2 separate regions of the Homo sapiens genome follow, and region 2 is linked to region 1. The links come from fine-mapping of genetic effects on gene expression. Tissue or cell type: whole blood. Region 1 holds a variant in brackets; the other region holds the start of a gene. All regions are shown on one strand. Distances are from middle to middle. Region 1 overlaps STEAP4 (STEAP4 metalloreductase). Region 2 holds the start of STEAP4 (STEAP4 metalloreductase).

Region 1 (11,462 bases):
TACATAATATCGAATAGGAATCACAAGTGTGTAGAGGACATGAAGGAAGGCAAATCCCAGAGCTACCAAGCCAAGCTGCTTTCGGCAAAGCATCCAGTGGTCAAGCCAGTCTGGGAATCGACGGTATTTTGTGCCTCGGTACAGTTGTAGAATGGCAGCAATAACACCAGGGAGGTAAACCAAAGCAAGCAGTGTAAGTGCTGTTATTGGAAAGATACGATTTGGAATGGAAATAGCCATACGAAATGTATTATCTTTCTTTTCATAAACATAAGGGTAGATTACGTCTCTTATAACACAATAGAAAAACAAGAAGACACACAGCACAGCAGACAAATAGAAGGGGAACCTCCACATTGGAAATAGCTGCAGGGGGTACTTTTCAATTTCTTTGGCTGCCATGAGTGATCCTTGATCCATTGGAGTAAGTCCAAGATTACGAACAATATCCATCACTCTTTGCTTGGCTTTGCTGTCATTTCCACACACAAACACCTAGTTTAAAAACAGTTAATTAATTCTGTATTTACTCCTTTTCCTTATTTAATAATTATTTTGAAAGGCTACAACAGCACCATGCCAAATGATGACGTAAAACAGTGAACCGATTTTAAAATAAGGATGTAGAATTAACATATGTAACAAGATGTTTTAAACTTGTATGTGGTGTCTTAGATAGGTAAGTACCAGGGTTTTTAGTTGATGATGGTTTTAGGCACATCACACTTATAAAAGACATGGTTCTCCACACTGTGAGTAGTTTGATCTTCTGTGTTTGTGGTGCCGCATCACTTATGAATGCTTCTAATCTCAGTGTATAAATGGAACCAGTTTCATACAAGGTAATGGAAGCAGAAAAGGATATTCACCAAGTATTAGTTTCTAGTACTGACAAGAAGCCTCCAGAGGCTGACACCATGGGGTTCCATCAAACTAAAATCTGAGGGTGCAGACAGTGGGAGATATAACAGTTGACCACCTTATTTGGTCAAGCTCAAGAAAATTATTCACAGCACATATTAGCAAAATGTAATATTTAGTGGGCATTTCATCTTGGAATTATATTTTGGAATCTTTGAGGCAAGTGCACATTTAATGATTCATGTTTTAAAGATTGAGTGTAAATTTGTTTATTCTTACCTGCCGACTTGCATCCAGTGCTCCTGACTGGAGAGCCCAGGCTGAGATGGTGTTAAATGCTTTTACCACGTGGGCTCCTGGCACCAAATGAGCAAGGTACTCTGCATTAGATTCTGGATATTGATTGATTTTGAGGTTGTTGCTGATGTCTACCAATATTTTTCCATTGAGAACCTCAGTTAATTCTGTGAGAAAATCATAATGCTCTCTGTGGATTGCTATGATTATGATGCCAGACTTCTTGGCTGCTTCTGAATAGCTCAAGACTTCTGCACCACTGGGCAGTAGGGTGGTCTTCTGGGGGTTTCGACTTCCAAAAACAACAGAATAACCACACTGGAGCATTTTCAATCCCAGTGATCTTCCAAAATCACCAGTTCCAAAAATACATACAGTCTCTTGCTTTTCTGAAGAATTCATAGTAAGAGGAAGTGCATCTATACAAGTTTTCTCCATAACTGAAAAATAATAACACAAATGCCCAACAAAATATAAATGCTCTGTGCCTGGAAAATTAAAGAGAGCTATATTCAAGAAGTAATGTAATTGACTTGTTGTAATCTAATTATCTTAACTATATTTACCCCCAAATTTGGAAGGAGTAAAAATTGTCATATATATTTCCCCCCAAATTTGGAAGGAGTAAAAATTGTCATATATCTTTTCATATGTGTCTTATTTAACAAAATCACTGGTGAAAAGCTTCTGTTTGATAAAAGGATACAGGGCAAAATCTGACAAAAAATATGCTCCAATAAATTATAGATAAATTCACTTGTTTAGTGATACCAAAAAAAACTAAATAAAACATTAGCAAACACAATCCAGCAGCTTGTTAATAGAAGGTTTATGTTGATCAAATGGGGATTATTCTACAAATGTGAAGATTAGTTCTATAAATTCAATTTTTGAAACTTCATTAATATAACTTAAAAGATTAAAATTTAATTTTATATTAAAAGATTTAAGGAAAAAGTCTGTCATATCTGTGTATGTTAAAAGGACATCTGTTAAAATTCAACATTTATTCTTGATTCATAGTGAAAGAGAAATACATAGATATTTCCTTAACATATAAAAATTATTGATCTTAACCTAAAATTCAGCATTATGCCTAAAAACATTAGTAGAAACATTTCCAACAAAGTCAGGAACCAGACAAATACATCTGCTATGACCACTTTAGTTATTGTTCTGAAAGCTCTAACATAACTAGATCAGAGAAAGAAATCAGAGGTACAGAAATTCAAAAGGGATTCCAGATGATCGAACTAGATCAAACTTTAAAAACTGGGAAAATCAACCAAAAAAGTATCATACATACAAAAATAATTCAACATCTAGGCTGGGAACTCGATTAAAATAAATATTCTTCATATATTAAAAAAGAAACCAGTAAGAAGATTTAATACATGAAAGGATCCTACTTATAGCTGCAACAAAATAAAGACAATATGTAACAAGATAGCAAGATATGTGCAACATATGTATGAAAAATATTTTAAATGCTCTTAAGAATCAGGAGAAGAGAACTTATATAAAAGAAAATGTACAGCATGTTCTTGGATGGCAAGGCTCACACAACGTCAGTTTTCCCTAATTCTATAAATTCTGAAAAGTAGGTTAATAAATGGGATGCTAGTCATATTAAATATTAAAATTTTTATAAAGCTAAAATAATTAAATAATGTGGTACTATCAAAGAAATGGATAAAGTTCTGGCCAGGCACAGTGGCTTATGCCTGTAATCCCAGCACTTTGGGAGGCCAAGGCAGGTGGATCACTTGAGGCCAGGAGTTTGAAACCAGCCTGGCCAACATAGTGAAATCCCATCTCTACTAAAAATACAAAAATTAGCTGGGTGTGTTGACACGCGCCTGTAATCTCAGCTACTCAGGAGGCCACAGCACTCCAGCCTGGGCGACAGAGAGAGACTTTGTCTCAAAAAAAAAAAAAAAAAAGAAAGAAAGAAAAGAAAAAAGAAAAGTAGAAAAATTTTAATGAATAAGTTTTAAAAAAATTCAGAAATGGACCCAAACACATATGATAAAAATAGCATCTCAGGTCAATGAGAAAACAGATTATTTAATAGCTAAT[G/A]TTGTAATGACCCAACAGGTTTGCCTTGCCTGCTACCTAGACAGAGCTGATTTCTTCATATGAAAGAACATTTCAGCTCTTTATGAGAGTCCCGAAAGTTTTTTCCTTTATTTTAATGTCATAATCTCCAAGGTTATCAGAAACTTGCATTCAAGAGCACCTGTCAAAGTTTTATAGCTGATTATAAAACCATCTCCTAAAGAGGACCAAATCAAGACAACAATTGTCTGCAGATGACAGAAATGTTTTAGGGAAGCCGCAGTCAAAGAAATTGACAAGGAAATTTGTTACCTCTGTGGCACACAAAAATTCAACATAACAATTATAATTATTACTGATAACATATACTGAGGCATATTAGAATTATAGAAATCTTATACAATTTTATAACACATACTAATAACATATTTATATGAGTATAACTCAAAGAAAGTTAAACACCATTTTATATTTGACAATGTTTCCTGCATGATTTTAATACATTAAATAAGCCTAATATATCTTTTTGAACTTCAGGATATCTAATTTTTTTTTTTAAACTTATAATTTGATCTTGGAAGGTTTGTCAAATATCAAAGATTTAAAACACTGGATATCACAAAATAGAGTCCCGTGTCACCATAAGTCATTCATTTACCCAAAATGATAACTCAGGGCTGGGCATGGAGGCGCACGCCTATAGTCCCAGCTACTCTGAGGCTGAGGCATGATAATTGCTTGAACTTGGGAGGTGGAGATTGTAGTGAGCTGAGATTGCACCACTGCACTCCAGCCTGGGCAACAGAGTGAGACTCTGTCCCCTGCCCCCAGAAAACTGCTGTGAGCAATTCCTTCAGGGCCCTCCATACATATAAACACACACACACACACACACACACACACACACACACACACACACGCAAACAATGTAAGATGAACAGAAGGCCTTCAAGACACAGATTCCAGACCCAGTCTCAAACCAAGAGTAGTCCTCCAAACAAGTTCCTTAGTCTCCATCCAATTAGACAACCCCTAATGGGGCTACAGACAGACACTCTGTAATGGGGCTACAGCTACAGACACCTTGTAATGGAGCTACAGGCAGATACCTTGTGATAGGGCTACAGACAGACACCCTGGGAGGTTACTAAGAGACAGCAGCACCTCCAGAGAGGCCAATAAATCAGGAGAAGGAAGGGGCTGTTGGTAGCTGCCTGGAATACTCACCAAATCAGACACCTTGCATTGAGGCTACAGCTACAGACACCCAGTGATGAGGCTACAGTTATGAGATATCTCCCTAGCATTACTTCTCCACTGCAATTGAATCCATGCACATTGGGTCAGCAGCACCCCACTGGCAGAGAGTGCCAGAGTCAGCCCCTAGTCCAAGAGAACTAGGTGGCCACTTGGGTTGGCCTCCAGATCCATCACCAGAGGTGGGCTACAGAGCAGGTAACAACAAAGGCAATCCTGGTCGAGCCCCCAAATTTGTAACTGCCCAATGGATTCACCTTGCCTGCTGCCTAGACAGAGCCAATTTATCATGACAGGGGGATTGCAATGGAGAAGGAGTAATTCAGGCAGAGCTGGCTGTATGGGAGACACGAGTATTATTATTACACAAATCAGTTTCCCAGAGCACGAAGATCAGAGTTCTTAAAGATAATTTAAATTAAAATAGGAGCTCGAAAGTGGGAAGTGCTGATTGGTCAGGTTGGAGATAGAATTATAGAGGGGATCGCAGAAGTGGTTAAGCCAGATTACCAATCTGGGTGGTGTCAGCTGATCCATCCAGTGCAGGGTCTGCAAAATATCTCAAGCACTGATCTTAGGTTTTATAATAGTAATGCTATCCATAGGAGCAATCTGGGGAAGGTCAGACTCTTGTAGCCAGAGGCTGCATGACCCCTAAAATGTAATATCTAATCCTGTAGTTAATCTGTTAGTCCTACAAAGGCAGACTGGTCCCCAGGCAAGAAGTGGGTCTTTTTGGGAAAAGGGACATTATCAATTTTGTTTCAGAGCCAAACCATAAACTAAATTCCTTCCCAAGGTTAGTTCTGCCTGCAACCAGGAATGAACAAGGACAGCTTAAAGGTTAGAAGCCAGATGGAGTCAGTTAGTTCTGATCTCTTTCACTGTCATAATTTCTTCAGTTAGAATTTTTGCAAAGGTGGTTTCAACGTTGGGGCAACTCAAGAGTTACCTGAAAGAAAAAAATAAATTTATACCTTATACTCCACCCCAAGGTAAATTCAAAATAAATTAAAGATTTATTTTATTTATTTATTTTGTGAGACAGAGTTTCGTTCTCGTTGCCCAGGCTGGAGTGCAATGCTGTGATCTTGGCTCACTGCAACCTCCGCCTCCCAGGTTCAAGTGATTCTCCTGCCTCAGCCTCCAGAGTAGCTGGGATTATAGGCATGTGCCACCATGCCTGGCTAATTTTGTATTTTTAGTAGAGACAGGGTTTCTCCATGTTGGTCAGGCTGGTCTCGAACTCCTGATGTCAGGTGATCCGCCCACCTCAGCCTCCCAAAGTCCTGGGATTACAGGCATGAGCCACTGTGCCCAGCTAAAGATTTATTTTTAGAAAAATGAAACTAGAACAGAACTAGAAGAAACCATGGAACATTCTTTTATAATCTTAGAGGGGAAGGTCCTCTTCCTACATCATTAAACCATTAACAAATAGTTGGACAAATGTGATTGCATAAAAATAAATAACTTCTGCAATGCAAAACCGCTAAGCAATGTCATAATGAAGATAATCAACGAACTGGAAAAAATATTTTTCAACTCATATAAATCAATGAGAAAAAAACAATTGCCCATTAGAAAATTGGGCAAAGAATATGAGCTGATAGTTTATCCTAAGGAAATATATAAAAGACTTCTAAACACAGTAAAATATTCTTAATATTACCCAAAACTAAAAAAAAATGCAAGTTAAAACTAAACTGAAATACTGTTATGAACCATGTGGCTGTAGAATTTAAATAAAAAACAAACCAGTTTGTATGATCTCCTGCAATAATCTAGGTTGTTTTTTATACTTTTGAAGAATATCTTTTCTTTCAGTATTGAATTTTTCTCAAAAATGTTTCTTTTCCAATATGTAGTTTAAGCTTTCAGTTAATCTTTTATTTTTTTTGGTGCATGCATGCGCGTGTGTGTGTGTGTGTGTGTATGTGTGTGTGTTTGTGTGTGTCTATTGTTCAATGATGTATCTTCAGTGCTCAGAAAAGCACTAACTACCACAGTCTAGGAAATTTATAAATATTCGTTGAACTATATTAAAAGGGTGGGATGAAGGGGCTGGAAGTACAAAAGTTTACTCTGTGTCCCAGGCACAGTGTGAGATAAATAAAAAGGAAGATGCTGAATGATTAAAGAGTAACCAATGGAGAAGAGTAAGAAAGAAGGAAAGAAGTGGAAGAGATGTTGTAAGGACATTATTTCTTTCACCCAAATGGGTTGAAAGTAAAACTCTGTGAATTTGATGCAGAATTTTCAAACCAGACTTAATCACTACTCAATTCTCCTATGGTGGATTTCATGCAGATTGCACAGTGTATGTAGAGTTTGCACCTTTTTCCTGGGGTTTCAGAAATTTGTGCTTTCCATTTTAGCCTATCAAAAACACCTATATTCTTACCGGAGCTTATCTGAAGTTGCACGCCTCCATCAAAAGCAGAGCATTTAGGCCTTTGTAGGGAGGTAGAAGTTATGGGAGAAAGGGACAAGAAATACAGGACATTCCTGCACTCCCACAGAAACTCTGAATAATCTAATTAAGTACATCTGAATCATTTTATAAACAAACTGGCGACTGATATCCTGAATGGGTGTCATCAAAGGTCATGACCACATGTGGGGAAGTACCTGTAGATGATCAGGGAACTTTGTATAAAAGTGCAGCTGTGCCTTTGAAAATTTCTTACTAGCATCTGCACATGCAGACTAGTTTAGCAATTTACCTTCTATTGGTTGATTGCCAATCAGTTAACACCTAGTTTTATAAATCAAACCTTCAAACTGCTGAACAATGCCTTCATTATTCTACTGTAGAACTGGTTTGTGTCACAAAAGAATGTGTGACTGCCTATCTCCTCACTTAAAAAAATTATTTTATCCTAATATTTTTATTCTCTCTTTCATACTGGATGAACATTTGCAAGCAAAATGTAGATTTGATGCAGTTGCCAGTATCCTGTAATGAGATGGATTTTGTTAACTGAAATATTCTCATTTGGATTATCTTAATCATTGCAAAGAGAGAGTGATTCCAGACCATTTTGACTATTTGGTCACTATATTCATTTATTCTAATCTTTCATAAATTTTTTAATGAAGATATTGACTTCATGGTCCTATTTTTTGCTTTGCCTCTTACCAGCAATGTCACCTTGAGAAAGTTACTCAAACTCTGTGTCTCAGTTTCATCATCTGTAAAATGAGGGATTGCTAGTACCTACTTGAAAGATACTGCGAGTGAGGACAGCAAAAATCAGCTAATGACCATGAACAGGTACTGGAGACAAAAAACTCCGTATCTGAGGAATTTAGAAGTATCATGAAGGGAGCAAAGAACACCTGGTGACCATCAACTAGGCCATCAGAGGCAAAACTCCGTATCGAGGGAATTTAGAAGTATTTAAAATTCTCTAGTATCTAAATAGGCATCTGGTTCCAGGCCTCTTTCAAAAAAATTTCTAAGTAACTAAAATTTCTATACATCTCCAGAACGCTATGCTGAAACTCATTGTGCAACCCTTGCTGACACAAAGGCACCAAAATGACTATAAATGTCATCATTTATCATGACCTGTCTGGCTAATATGGTCCAAATTACCCTCAAGCTTCTGTCTTAAGGTCCATAAATGCTCCCAAGGAGAATCCACCATGGCCCACTCAGTTCTATCTTGCTAAGGCGCCCTGCTGCACTCTTCTGCAGTGTTCTTTCTTTCTACTAAAACTTTCCTTTTTCAAACCTATTCTGTTGTTATTAAATTCTTCTTACCAACTCGCAAGTCGACCACTTTCAGATGCTAGGGCTCTCACACCTCGCCCGGCAGTGAAAATTAGATGAATTCCTGCATCTCAAAACAGTTCTTGAGACCTAGTAAGTGTTTAAGAAAATGGGTATTTTAAATAGATTGGTAATCTATTAGTTATTGAATCAAGTATCTAATTAATGTAGCCTTTATATAAACTTTACAAATTAAGGGTTAATTATGCTTATATAACTATGATTATTATAAATATATAAAAAATATCTGAACTAGAGTGCAACGATTCTTAAGAATCTCCTACTTGTCCCACTTATTTCTTATAAATAAAACTCTATATAAAATGGCGTTTGAGGATCACTTGAGGTCAGGAGCTCGAGACCAGCTTGGCCAACATGGTGACACCCCGCCTCTACTAAAAATACACAAAAAATTAGCCAGGTGTGGTGGAACACACTTGTAATTCCAGCTATTGGAGAGGCTGAAGGGGAAAGATCGCTTGAACCTGGGAGGTGGAGGCTGTAGTGAGCCGAGATCGCACTGCTGCACTCCAGCCTGGGCAACAGAGCAAGACTCCATCTCAAAAAGAAAAAAAAAAAAAAAGAAAAGAAATAGATATATGCACACTCTCAACCACAAGGGAGATCAAGTTGAGGGTGCATTTTGCATTAGGTACTATCTAAAGAATGCTGCTACACCCTTTTCAGGCATCTTGAAACTCAAAATAGCTGTGTGTAAATATACGTTCATGGAGGTTCCTTGTTCAAAGACTTAAAAAAGTTTTCTAGTCCTACTTTACTCTTATATCCAGGATAGAAATAATAAAGAAAATAATAAAAAAGGTAGTAAACAGGAAGAAGAGTTATTAAGGGAAACGTGGGTTAAAATAGTTAAAACACAACATAGGGGTTTCCTCTCCTTCCTTCAGTCTCATGGGCTCTCCACAAACCTCAGTTATGTAACAGGAAATACAACAGAAATATTTCTGGGTTTGGAAAATCTGCAGGACTGGTTTTGCCTCTTATGGAATCATTTCCCAGAGATGACAGCCAAGATGCGTAAAGTGATCTCACAAGGGTGTTTACATAGATTAGGAATTAGCAATCAGTGACGCAGATACAAAGGTGGCAAAGATGACAATGAAGGCCATGGTAGCAGCTGACTCTGAGAAACCATGTGTGTGTGTGCGCGCGCGTGTGTGTGTGTGTATGTGAGTGTGTGTGTCATATGAGGGACCAAGTGTGGGTCAGGAGGAGTCCTGCTTATCATCCCTCTCTTTGCAGATCTCACCCCACAGGCCTTGGAAACCTGAGGCAGTATTCTTCTGGGATGTTTCCAACTAGGCTTCCCATGAGGATGTTAGAGCCAGCCTGGCTGGTGAATTTTACTTCTCTCACCTCTCAGAGGTAAGAGGTCTGAGAGGCTCAGGCCCTTCCAGCTTTTGAGGATTCCAGCATAGTAGAAACATAAAAAGGTCCAAAGGGAATTACAAAAATAATCTATTTTCAGTTCTTATACTTAACAAGTCAATTCTTATTAAAAAAATAAATCAATCAAACTTTTGTTTGATATAATTATAGATTCCAAGGAAGTTGTAAAGATAGTACAGGAGGTCCCTGTGCATCTTTCACCCAGTTTCCTCCAGTTTTATGCCACTAGAGTACAATATCCAAACCAGGACATTGACATTGGAGCCATATGCATGTATATTTCCATGTCATTTTATCTCATGTGTATGCTCATGTACCCATCACTTCAATCAGGTTAGAGACTAGACCATCCCTCATGCTGCCCTCTGAACTACCAACCCTAACCCGTGGAGGTCATTAATCTGTTCTTTATCACTACAATTTGGTCATTTTGAGAATGAATAAAATCACACAGTAATGCAAGCCTTTTGAGACTAGCATTTTTTCACTCAGCATAACATACTTAAGATCCATCAATAATTCTTCCATTTTATTGCCGAGCGGTATTCTACAGTATAGATATACTAAAGTTTAACTCTTCATCTAAGGTAGGACATTTTGGTTGTTTCCAGTTTTGGCTATTACAAATAAAGCTTCTATGAGTATTCACCTACAGGTTTTTGTGTGAAAATAAGTTTTCATTTCTCTGCGATAAAGACCCCGGGATACAAATTCTGGGTCATATGGTGTTTGTTTAGCATTCTAAGACTTGGCTATACTGACTTCGAATGTGTACTAATTTACCCCTTACCAGGTATTTATGAGTCATGATTTTTTATTTTAGCCATTCTGATATTTCATTGTGGTTTAAATTTGCATTTGTTTAATGGTTAATTATGTTGCATATCTCTTAATGTGTTTATTTGCTCTCTGTGTGTCCTCTTTGGTGAGAAGTCTCTTCATGTATTTTGCTTATTTTCTAATTGGACTGTTTGGGTTTATTTACTGTTGAGTTTGACAATCTTTATATATTCTACATATGAGTCTTTTGTCAGATATGTGATTTGCAAGCATTTTCTGCCAGCCTATAGCTTGTTTTTTTCATGTCTTAACACATCCGAAGTCATAAAACAAACATTTTTTAATTTGATGATGTCCAATTTATTTAATTTTTTTTCTTTCATGGATTGCGCTTTCAGTATCTTACCCAAAAACTCTTCACAAAGCCCTAGGTCCTGAATGTTTTCTTCTAAAAGTTTTACTTATAAGTCTATGATCCATTTTAAGTAATTTTCATACATAGTGTAAGGTTTAGGACAAGGTTTATTTTTTGACCTATGAATACATAACTACTCTTCTACCATTTGTTGAAAAGACTATCCTTATTTTTTGCTGAATTGCTTTCACATTTTTGTCAAACATCAGTTATACATAGAGGTGTGGGTCTATTTCTGCATTCTCTATTCTGTTCCATTGATCTATGTGTCTATCCCTCTGCCAATACCAACAATGTTGATGGCTGTAGCTTTATAATAAGTCTTAAAATTGGGTACAGTGATTCTTCCCACTATGTTTTTTTTTGAAAACTATTATAGCTACTCTAGTTCCTTTTCAGTCCTATAAATTTTAGAATAATCTTGTCATAAATTTTAAAAAATGTACTTTAAATGCTTAAATTAAAAAAAATGCTTAAAAATATTCCAAAACTTCAATGCAAAGCAGTTCATGTTTTAGGAGAAAAATATAGATGACTGTGCTAAAAAATTAATTCATACAAAAGCATAATAGCAGTGTGTAGATACAGGTTAAGCATCCCTAACCC
Region 2 (11,462 bases), 19 kb after region 1:
CCCTGAATGGTAGGAAGTTAAAATGTGGACTTTGCCACTGCACTTTGACCCTGTTAACTAATATTGTGCAGGCAGCATCCATACTCATTATGTACTATGTCCATAAGGTAAGTATCTTCCAAAAATAAAAATCAGTGTTATTAGCAATGCCTTGCTTTCAACAGAGATTTATTGAATAGCCACACTAAGAGGGATAAAGTGAGAAACGAGATGGACCCTGTCCTCAAGGAGCTTTGGTCTTGGGAAAGATGAAGCATATAATCAAATTGTTGCAATGCATAGTGTAATGGCCAGAGCAGACGAATGTGTAGAGAGGATGGGCGCCTACAGGCTAGGAGGGACTTGAATCTGCCAGGAAGCGGAACAAGTAAGTTTTCCAAAGTCTGTGCAAAAGTTTTGCAGCCACAATTTAACTTGAGCTCAAAACTGTTTTCACACCCTGTAAAAAGAGCAGGTATAGATGAAAGATGAACAATCAGCGATGACCATTAATTATCCCTTCCTATTTCTACGCTCCACAGTGCTGGTGCCATCAGCTCTCTGAGCCCTGGCTCTGTTCTTAATGCATTTTTTTTTCCTTAATATTGGGTGCTGGCCAGGTGCGGTCACTCACGCCTGTAATCCCAGCACTTCGGGAGGCCAAGACAGGCAGATCACTTGAGGTCAGGAGTTGAAGACCAGCCTGGCAAAAATGGCGAAACCCCATCTCTACTAAAAATGCAAAAATTAGGTAGGCTTGGTGGTGCATGCCTTTAATTCTAGCTACTCAGGAGGCTGAGGCAGGAGAATTGCTTGAGCCCAGGAGATGGAGGTTGCAGTGAGCTGACATCGCGCTACTGTACTCCAGCCTGAGTGAAGGAGTGAGACTGTCTCAAAAAAAAAAAAAAAAAAAAAAAATTGGGTGCTGAGGCCAAACTGACTAGCTTGTATTCTACTAATAATCTTCCAAGAGCTGTGCTATATAGTTTTATTTTCTTTTAGCCTTCTTTTTATTTAGAATTATAGTTCCTAACTTTTCAAAATTACTCTTTGCAAACATTTTCCTTCCTTTTAAGATGAAAAGGGAACTTTATCCTGATGTTAGGATTGATCATATAATCTGCATTAAAAAAAAAAAAAAAAAAAAAAAAACTCCAACCGGGCGCGGTGGCTCACACCTGTAGTCCTAGCACTTTGGTAGGCCAAGGCGGATGGATCACCTGAGGACCGGAGTTCCAGACAAGCCTGGCCAACACGGCGAAACCCCTTCTCTACTAAACATAAAAAAATTAGCTGGGCATTGTGGTGGGCACTTATAATCCCAGCTACTCAGGAGGCTGAGGCAGGAGAACTGCTTGAACCCAAGGAGCAGAGGTTGCAGTGAGGCAAGATCCTGCCACTGCACTCCAGCCTGGGTGACAGAGCGAGACTCAGTCTCAAAAAAAAAAAAAAAAAGTCCTCCCAAAATAGCTTTTCAGAAATATGTGACTGCCAAAGTACAGTACAGTAAACCTCTCCACACATGGCTGAATAAACTCTTACAGAACATTGTGGAGAAGAATTTAGATTGGGATGTCAATGTCCTGCCTAGTTAATTAGAGTGTATATACTTCCTTTAGTAGAATAGTGTGTTCTTTTGCAATGATATGTTTCTGAAAGAGGATCTTTAAACAGCACAAGGATTCATTGTTTTCTATTCCTTAATGATTTGGGAAGAACAAATTGTTAATCTATGTAGGCCAAGAATGTTTTCTTAGCATGCCTTGTTTTATGCATTAATTATTCTTTAGTTATTTATTTAGTTTGATTCCTTCCAGGACTGATTTCTTCTTAACAAAAGGACAAATACTAATTCAAATCACTTTGGAAATGACCTAAAAGTCATCAGAAATATCTTGAGTGGAGTTAACACAGTATATAGAACTGTTCAGGAAGTTTTCCTAATTAGTAAACCAGTCTCTTTTCATGTCCTTTGTAGGGACATGGATGAAATTGGAAATCATCATTCTCAGTAAACTATCGCAAGAACAAAAAACCAAACACCGCATATTCTCACTCATAGGTGGGAACTGAACAATGAGAACACGTGGACTCAGGAAGGGGAACATCACACTCTGGGGACTGTTGTGGGATGGGGGGAGTGGGGAGGGATAGCATTGGGAGATATACCTAATGCTAGATGACGAGTTAGTGGGTGCAGCGCACCAGCATGGCACATGTATACATATGTAACTAACCTGCACATTGTGCACATGTACCCTAAAACTTAAAGTATAATAATAAAAAAAAATCTGTGAAGAACAGAGACAGGTAACTTCAGAGATCTTATCTCTGTAAACCTTACATTATTATTATCTGGCATAAACTTACAACAAAAAAACAAACAAACAAACAAAATCCCACCCAGAAAACTTCACTATCCCCATCCTACTCTGCATTGTTATAGTAAGAATTATTGGTAGATGTAGCTGCAGGCACTAGCAAATTACCTTCTCAGAGGACAACCCAGAAAAAACTAGCTACAAAGTGCCCTAGCAAAGTGCCCAATCTTCAGGTTTTGAAGGACTACTGTGTTGCTGCTGTTGTGTGTGTGTGTGTGTGTGTGTGTGTTTGCTAGCAACTTATCAGATTTCCTAAGATTTTCCAAAAAAAAAATGATTTTTAAGTAGCATTTGATAAACACGTCTAAATTAATTATGAAGAGAACTAGGTGGTAAGGATCCTAAAACAGTGGAATGTGTTCCTGAGAGTGACAACAGAATCAGCTACCCAGCCTTTAAAAGGAGAATTTATATCCTTTTAATAACAGTATTAATAATAGTAGGGTGATTCAGGGGAAGTCCTTCAAGAGACAAAGTAATGCAGAGTGACCACTCCAAGTTTCTTTGAATATAAAATTCCATAACAAATGACCTTATTTTTCTTAAAATTGTTCACACATAGTGCAAGGCCTGGGGTTTTTAATTTATTAACAATCTTAAAAAGTCTGTTTAGTTCCTTCTAAACAACAGTTAGCGAGCTTTAGTAAGGCAGAAGTCTGGAAATTGTTCTTCAGCTAGGGGCCAGGCCTTGTACACCTGGTTTCTGAACAATGTGAACTTCAACAATGTGAACAACGTGAACCTCAGTGGAACTGTAAACGTTACCAAATAGAAAAACTGCTATGACCCAATTTCTCTGTACACATGTACCATTTACTTTACAGCCTTGGAGCCTGATAAATAGGAAGTGTCTCATCCTGTTTTCTGGGTTGGCAGTGTTTGCCATGCAGGTAGAATACATGCAGGTCAAATCTCATATTGTGCTAAATCACAGCATTCTGAAAAACTTGGGACCTTGCAAAAGGCCATATCTCAGAAAAGTTACTGCTTCAAATAAATGTGCCATTTTACAAAATTATACCTACTGTATCAGAAAAAAAAAATGTTCTCTCATGTGAGTGACATTTATATGACTGCCATTTGTAGGGAATAGGACATTCTCACATAGCAAGGCTGAAGAATGGTTTTGAAAGCTGAGAGTATTCTCTGAATGATAAATGTGGCAGAACTTTAAGATGCTCCTGTGGGAAGAGACTCTTCCCCCGACAACTGGAGAGTTTCCTTATAAAAATGGAACATGCATTATTATGAAAAAAGTAACCACTGAATTATAGTTGTAGCATTAAGGAGATTTTCTATGTATTTCAAACTTGCAGGCATCTTTAGTCACGGCTTTTCACCTTGTTAGAGTTGAACTTTCTGGATCATCTGGCCCAGTAGCCAGCCTTTTATTTTACATCTGTGGAAACTGAGGCTGAGATAATGAGGTTCTAGTTATTATAGAACTAGGAATAGTATTCTTCCTCCCCTCCCCCATTCTCTATCCAATTCACTTTCTCAGCTCACTGCAACCTCCACCTCCCAGGTTCAAGTGATTTTCCTGTCTCAGCCTCCTGTGTAGCTGGGATTACAGGCACCTGCCACCACGCCTGGCTAATTTTTGTATTTTTAGTAGAGACTGGGTTGCACTATGTTGGCCAGGCTGGTCTCGAACTCCTGACCTCAAGTGATCCATCGGCCTTGGCCTCCCAAAGTGTTGGGATAACAGGCTTGAGCCACCGTACCCAGCCTCAGTACACCAATCTTTTAAAGAAAGTTCCTAAATTACCATCTAGAGGTGGGAAAAAGAATAATAAAATTCTGTCTCTGGACAAACAAACGGAACTGAGGCTTTATTTACTCTTCACAATAAATTATATTCTGAACAATCTTCCTCCAGAAAAATAACCTTTAAATTGCAAGAGGAAATTTAAATCAAGATAAAAAAATGGAAGTGGTTGCAGGTATCAGGACAAATTTTTAGTGCCTGGTCAAGAAGCAGCCTCGGATCTGAGACCTTGGAGACTGACTGCTAAAGCCACATTCTTCCAGCCTACTTTTTGATGGGCGCCCCAAGAGTGCGCCAATCCAGAAGTAAGATGCAGAGAAGAATCTAACCCCTTAATTTTCCCCCTTTGGGCTTGTCTGCACCCTGGGGTAGGGATGAGCCTTAAACTCCAGGAAGTTAGAAGCTTGCTGAATCGCGGAGCAGCCTCAGGTGACTTTCCTCTAAAGTGATGCCGGGGCGCGGCGGGGAGTTTGCAAGCACCTGTTCTTCAGTGCGATGGGCTGGGGAGTGGGGTCCTAGCAGCAGGGACTGGAGGTGAGCTGAAGCAGATAAGGGACGGGAGCCTTGTGGCGAAAAGTGACCCACCTGAGGGAGAGGCGCTTCCAAGGAGGAAGCGTCCAGCGCCAACGGTGCGCGCCGCGGGCCGGGCGGGTAGAGGGAAGTTTCGCCGCGCCTGCAGCTCAGCGCTGTGGCTTGTGGCTCTCGCTGCTATAAGAAGCCAGAGAAGGGCGGGACGGTCTGCTGGATTTCGCAAGAGAAGCGGAAAAGAACTTGTTTCCTGGAAGAGTTCAAGCTGAGAATCCCAGCAGCTGGAAGGACCGGAACTTCTATACTGCGGTGCTGCTGATGGTGCCGCTGACCCCCGGGAAGCGGGGATTTTAAGGGTTACACCCGAGCCCTTGGCATCTGTGCATCCCAGGGTGATTGAGGTTTGGAGAGGTCTAGGAATCCCCCTTTCCTAAAGGAGCAAGAAGGATCTCTTTGAGTAGCTGAGAAAACAGCACCTGGACTAGGCTTCTAGGCAATTCTTTTGCCATCTTGTCTCAGTTTATAGAAAAGGTGGTATCTTTCCCCTCCGCCTGGAAGCCATGGGTTCTTATGGGGCTCATAACTTGGAAGATCTTGAGTTTTCAGGTCTTAATTTAGGTAGATTAAAGAAATAAAACAAATGAAAGAGGGATCGGGATACCTTATGATATACATGCAAATGTGTCTTTCTACAGAGAAGGTCAAAAACCACAGCCCTGGTTGTTTAAGATTGAAATAATCCTGATAAACTATGGGGCAAAGCATCCATACACTCCCAAACTCTGTAATCTAAATCCCAGAGTCTTCCCAATGATCTCCACTCAGCCATGGGTCTTAAATTCCACAGCATACGCTTGCCAAGCTCCAGAGGCCCGGCCACATGGGAGGCCTGTTCCTCCCATGGAAAGGGGTTGTTGAGTCAACCTTCCCTTTGTCTGGATTGCAACTCTCCTCATAGCTTCTTGTGGGGTTGGTCAGACCCCATGTCTTTCAAGAGGTCTTTTCTTAGCCATTAGTTGCAATTAATATTTTCTTTCTCTATACAGTAGTTTATACTTTTAGCACAGCAATTAAGACAATTTGCCTTTCAAAAGAGTTATTATCATGTGTGTGTGTCTTGTCCTGGACTGCAGTCTTCGAGGGATGACACCCTAGTTTTTTCAGTCTGGAATTTTCCATAACACCTAGCAAAATGCATTACTTAACAATGGGGATTTATTCTGAGGAATGCCTCATTAAGCAATTTATTAAATATATTCTGAGGAATGTCTCATCAAGCAATTTCGTCATTGTGTGAACATCATAGAGTGCACTTACACAAACCTAGATGGTATCACCTACTACAGGCCTAGGCTAGATGGTATATAGCCGATTGCTCCTAGTCTACAAACCTGTTCAGTATGCTACTTTTCTGAATACTGTAGTCAGTTGTAACACAATGGTAAGTATTTGTGTATCTAAGCATAGAAAAGGTATAGTAAAAATGTGGTATAAAAGATAAAAAATGGTATACCTGTATGGAACACTTACCATGAATGGAGCTTACAGGACTGGAAGTTGCTCTGGGTGAGTAAGTGAGAGAGTGTGAAGGCCTAGGATATTACTATACACTACTGTAGACTTTATAAACACTACATTTAGGCTATGCTATTATAAGAAATATTTTTCTTCCTTCAATAGTAAATTACCCTTAGCTTTCTGTAACATTTTTACTTTTTAAACTTCTAAGTTTTAAAAAACTTTTTGAGTTTTGTAATAACGCAGCTTAAAACACATATTGTACAGTGTGTACAAATAGTTTTTGTCTTTATATCCTTATTCGATAAGCTTTTGTCCCGTTTTTAAAAGTTTTAATTTTTTTGCTAAAAATGAAGACACAAACACACATATTAGCATAGACCTACACAGAATCAAGATATGTGATATCACTGTCTTCCACCTGTATGTCTTTTGTTACTGAAAGGTCCTCAGGGGCAGTAACATGCATGGAGCTGTCTTCTGTGGTAGCAATGCCTTTTTCTGGAATATCTGCTGAAAGACCTTCCTGAGGCTGTTTTACAGTTAACTTTTTAAAAAATACAAGTAGAAGGAGTACACTCAAAAATAATTTAAAAGGTACATATAATAAATACATAAGCCAGTAACATAGCTATTTATTATCATTATCAAGTATTATATACTGTACATAATTGTACATGCTATACTTCTATATGACTGGCAGCATAGTAGGTTTCTTTACACCAGCATCACCACAAATGTGAGTAATGTATTGCTCTGTGATGTTATGACAGCTACAGTGTCCCTAGGCAAGAGGAATTTTTCAGCTCCATTATAATTTTATGAGACCGTTATTATATATGCAGTGCATCATTGACCGAAACATTGTTAGGTGGTGCGTGAGTGTAATTGGTACTGAATATTTATTGCACTCATTAATTAATAAATCTACTGCCAATTATTATATTTTGCAAAAAATTCATCCGATAGTATTCTTTGGCCAGGGAAGAACTTAAAATATTCATTGATTTTATAGCATCTGATTTTCCCAGTTTGCAGACTAATAGGCAAGAGAGGGGTGTGCACCCATGGAAGAAGGTCCGCTGCGTGTCCCTAAGAGTCTTCATAGATGGTCAACACAGTTTTGGAGACTTGCCCTTTGTCTACCATTTGGTTTTAAGCCTTGATGGGCACAGAAACTTGATAAGCACACTGAGCCTGAAACAACCAAAATGGTGACTTGTTAGTTGTTAATGGAATATAAAGCAAATAGTTATTGTAAAAATACAGTTGCTAAGGGCACCAGACATTATGGCCATCACATTCTCTCCATGTAGACATATCCTGTGGAAGCTATTTTATATGCAGAAGGCTGCTGGATAAACAGACGAGTGAGTTATAAAATTCCAAGGTTTACTGACATCTGGTTAAGAGAGTAGCTATATCGATGCATGCCATTTAGAAGCAGAAGCTGGGGTCTATGGACCAGGTCACTCTGGTTTCTAGGTGGTGTTTGGATCCATTATGAGTTGACATAATGGACAACCATATTCTCGAATGCATCCTCTGAGTAATAACAGAATCATTGCTTTATAAACTTATTATTATTAGGTAGATAAAAAATTTTGAAATGTGATTTTTATGAGAGGCAGATATATTTCAGTTATGCAAGTTCTTTTCTTTGCCAAAGGCAACTGGAGTCCTAGAAAAGGAAGATTAAATTACTGGGATATGAAGGATGGAAAAAAAATGCCTTTATTAGTGCAAAACTTAAGAGGCATTTGACGTATTTATCTTGTGGTTTAAAGATTGATTTTCCCCTTGGGCCTAGGAGGGACACACAGTTCATAACTCTCCTAGTCTTTCCGTAAACCCTTGCCATAGGGGAAAATTAAGCTTCCCAAAGATGCCAGCAACCTGAGTACCCAAGGACTTCCTGTGGGCAGGATTCATCTTTCTTCCTGTAGTTTTATACTCAGAGCTCCAGATAAACCTTCCCAGATGTTGTGCACCACCAAATTGTTCTTATTTAGGGATTTCCACATTTACTGTGCCCCTGAGTCTTTCCTGCTACTTCCTCTCTCCTCATCCTACTATGTCAAAGGCCCCAAATGGTAGAATTTAGGCAAACTGATGAAGTAGGCCTAGAGCCAGTGTTCATTAAATGTTATTAAGTGATTGAAAAAAAGTTACCCTTAACATTTTGTATCTCCCTTTCAATGCCATTTTTCTCCTTTTCTGGGGCTCCCCTCTGCACTATCTTGTGTCTTGGGCATTTATCCCTCTTCCGCAAGTCCTCTCCTTACAGTGTTCCACACCTTCTTATTGGGGTGGGGTGGAGCTTTCAACACGTGCTGGACCAGGAGGTGACTGACTTGATAGTCTATAATTAGCATGTGTATGCGAATCTTTTATTGACTTAAAGATTTGCCCTCTAGCTGTTTTTGAAAAAAAAATTTTTTTTGAAGGACTCCTAGAGATGTCTCTGTCTAACCCCCAGAAATGAATCTCTATGGCAGGGATTTCAGGCGCTCTGGGAGATATATTTGAATATTGGTGTAAGGAATATTTTGTCTTTTGCTTACCTAGCATCCAGGACCAGGACTAAGTGAGGTGAATGAGGAGGCTAGGACACCAAATCTGTGGAGGTGCTCACTCAAAACCCAGTCTGCACGAACCTGAAAATAAATGACTTCTTAAATGTTTTTCCTTTGGTGCCTTCCTTGCCTGCTCTAGTCCTGGTCCTGCAGCATCCATTTCTCTTTGCTAATTATATCTTCATTTTCGTTTGATAAACGCCCTTGCACAATCTTGATCCACGTGGTTCAAGTTGAACCAATGGCACTGGGGTTCCAGGATCAGGCACCTGACTTAGACCTGGCCATTCAAAGCACAAAGCCTTGTCCACAGTGATTGGTCCAATGATGGCATGTGACCTGAGTTGGGCCAATAGGAATCTTTCCTGGAACAACCTGGGAAGCAGCACACTCTTTACAGAGGGTTGTCGGACTGCTAAAAAGCAAGCCTGGGTCACTGTGAGGAGAAAGTCAGCCTGAGAAAGAGGCCACTTCAGGGGAAAAGAGAGCAAAGAGATGAGAAGAGACAGATTTCTGCAATTGTTAGAGTGCCATATCTGAAGAAAGCTGTATACTCTGGGCTTTTTAGTGACATGAGTCAGTAATTGAATGTCTGTTATTTGTATAAAATGGGATTGGGTAGGATGAGAAAGGCACCTGCTCAGTCAGACTTCTGTGACTGTAATGCCTACTGAGGTGGCTTCATCACAACATGTGGTCAGAATGAGGAAGGCATGTGTTGTTAAAAAAAGCAAAACAAAGGCCTTTCTGAGTTTTCTTGTAGTAGCTTTGGGACTTGGATAAATAATCAATTTCTGTGACTGAAGTTTTTCAGCTACTTCCTGGTATATTCAGAAATCATTTTCCTGTCTCAGAAAACTTTTTTTCTACTTCTTTCCTATTTTAGTGGGGGTGGACAGATAGAATCCTTCTCCTCCTTTTTCCTGAAACTGCAAAGGGTATAGTGAAGAAGCCAGGCCATTGACCTGGTTTTAACCAATTTCTAGGACTCCTGCCAACACAGACCAGGAAGCAAAACCAAACAACATTTTACTGCCCACCTGCACCCAAAAAAAGTACTGATGGGAAAATACGTCAGACACTGACAGTATTGGAGTCTGGACTAGGGATAATGTCAGGAATGACAATAAAGAACTTAAAAATAAGACCTAAAGAACTTGACTTTAGGTTCAAGAGGAGGTTGAAGAGAAGAGTTGAGTATGTGGGATAAGTGAATAATAATATTTTAAAACATCACTGACAAAGCCTAGAAGTGACAGACAGTTGCAGCTACTTCTGGGAATTGAAAATAGGCAAGGAAACCCTTTCCTCTTTATCTGGGTCTCTGATTCCCTGGGTCACAAGGTCTGTGTTAATTTTGGAAGCTTCTAAGGCACTGGCAGGGCTATGGACTGACTATCACCAATAGGAATCTGGAGGCGGCCCAAGACCACATCTGCTGACCTCAGAAGAGGTCACTTAAATACGATGTTACCAAAGAACAAGATGTGCAAAATAATTTGAAGAGATGGAGAAATATTTGAGTTAATTTTTTGATAAATGCAGCTGGCATTAATAGAGATGTTCTTTCTGTAATTCAAAAACTGAAGATGTGTCATCTGCTTTCACCCCAGCCTGCTGGTACACGCCATGATATATGAAGCTGCTAGCAGAGCTATGAATCAATAGTTGATTGGTAGTTACTGTTAGTACTGGAAGTATTATTGGCAACAGCAATTCCAGTCCAGGCAATTTGTGCCTAGTGCCAGTAAAGGAAGGTTAGTTAGATTTTTCACATGCTAAAGAGGAGACAAAAATAAATTTAAAAATATTAGAGTGAATGAGGTCCTGTTCACTTTCAAATAGAGTTAGCAGGGAAAATAGTATAAAACCAATCACAGGAGGAAAAGCAAAAGAGAAGAATACTGAAAATATGAGGCTATTTTTTTTTCTCCATTTTCTAACTGTAAAGATCAATTACTTGCTAAAAGTTATTTTCTTTTTTGGGGTTTCTTTAAAGATAATTATATATATTATTTTTATACTGGTAGTATTAACTATAGATGATTCTGTAGTACCAAATACAGATGATTTATGTTCACAGAGTGTTTGCTAAACAATTTATTTAGTTACTGTAGATTGTTTTACATTATATAACACTTTAGTTTAAATAATTAACTAAAATATTTAAACAATTAATGCAAAATTCAAGATATAAATGGGGTATGTTGAAAAGCTGTTTTCTGCAGACATTGAGCTCCCTTGTCTGGAGGCAACCACGTTGATGATTTATTGGGCTCCTTTCATAGACAGACTATGCATATAAAAGCATATATATTTGTTCTTAAAAATTACAAATGGTGGCCAGGCAAGGTGGCTCATGTCTGTAATCCTAGCACTCTGGGAGGCCAAGGTGAGCCAATCGCTTTAGCCCAGGAGTTCGAGAAAAGCCTGGGCAACATGGTGAGACCCTGTCTCTACAAAAAACAAAAAAACTAGCCAGGTGTGATGGCACGTGCCTGTAGTCCCAGTTACTCAGGAGGATGAGGTGGGAGAATCACTTGAGTCTGGGAGGTCGAGGCTGCAGTGAGCCATATTCGTGCCACTGCACTCAAGCCTGGGTGACAGAGCAAGACCCTGTCTCAAAAACAACAACAGCAACAAAAATATAAGTGGAAGCCTACTAGTCACATTCTTCTACACCTTCCTTCTTTTCACTTAACACTGTAACTT

Evidence for each region.
Region 2: it holds the start of STEAP4, and the variant in region 1 is fine-mapped to the expression of STEAP4 in whole blood (INTERVAL, PIP above 0.99).

The regions. Positions count from the first base shown.
Region 1 is chr7:88,282,674-88,294,135 of GRCh38, forward strand. STEAP4 (STEAP4 metalloreductase) reads right to left here. Exons shown (of 5, transcript NM_024636.4): 2 at 1,141-1,598; 3 at 1-495. The coding sequence starts at 1,596. LOC124901692 (a long non-coding RNA gene) reads left to right here and starts at 8,814. Exons shown (of 2, transcript XR_007060420.1): 1 at 8,814-9,637. The variant G/A (reference allele first, on the strand shown) is at 3,238.
Region 2 is chr7:88,302,079-88,313,540 of GRCh38, forward strand. It overlaps STEAP4 (STEAP4 metalloreductase), which reads right to left and starts at 4,816. Exons shown (of 5, transcript NM_024636.4): 1 at 4,714-4,816. All of the region lies in intron 1 of LOC124901692 (a long non-coding RNA gene), which reads left to right.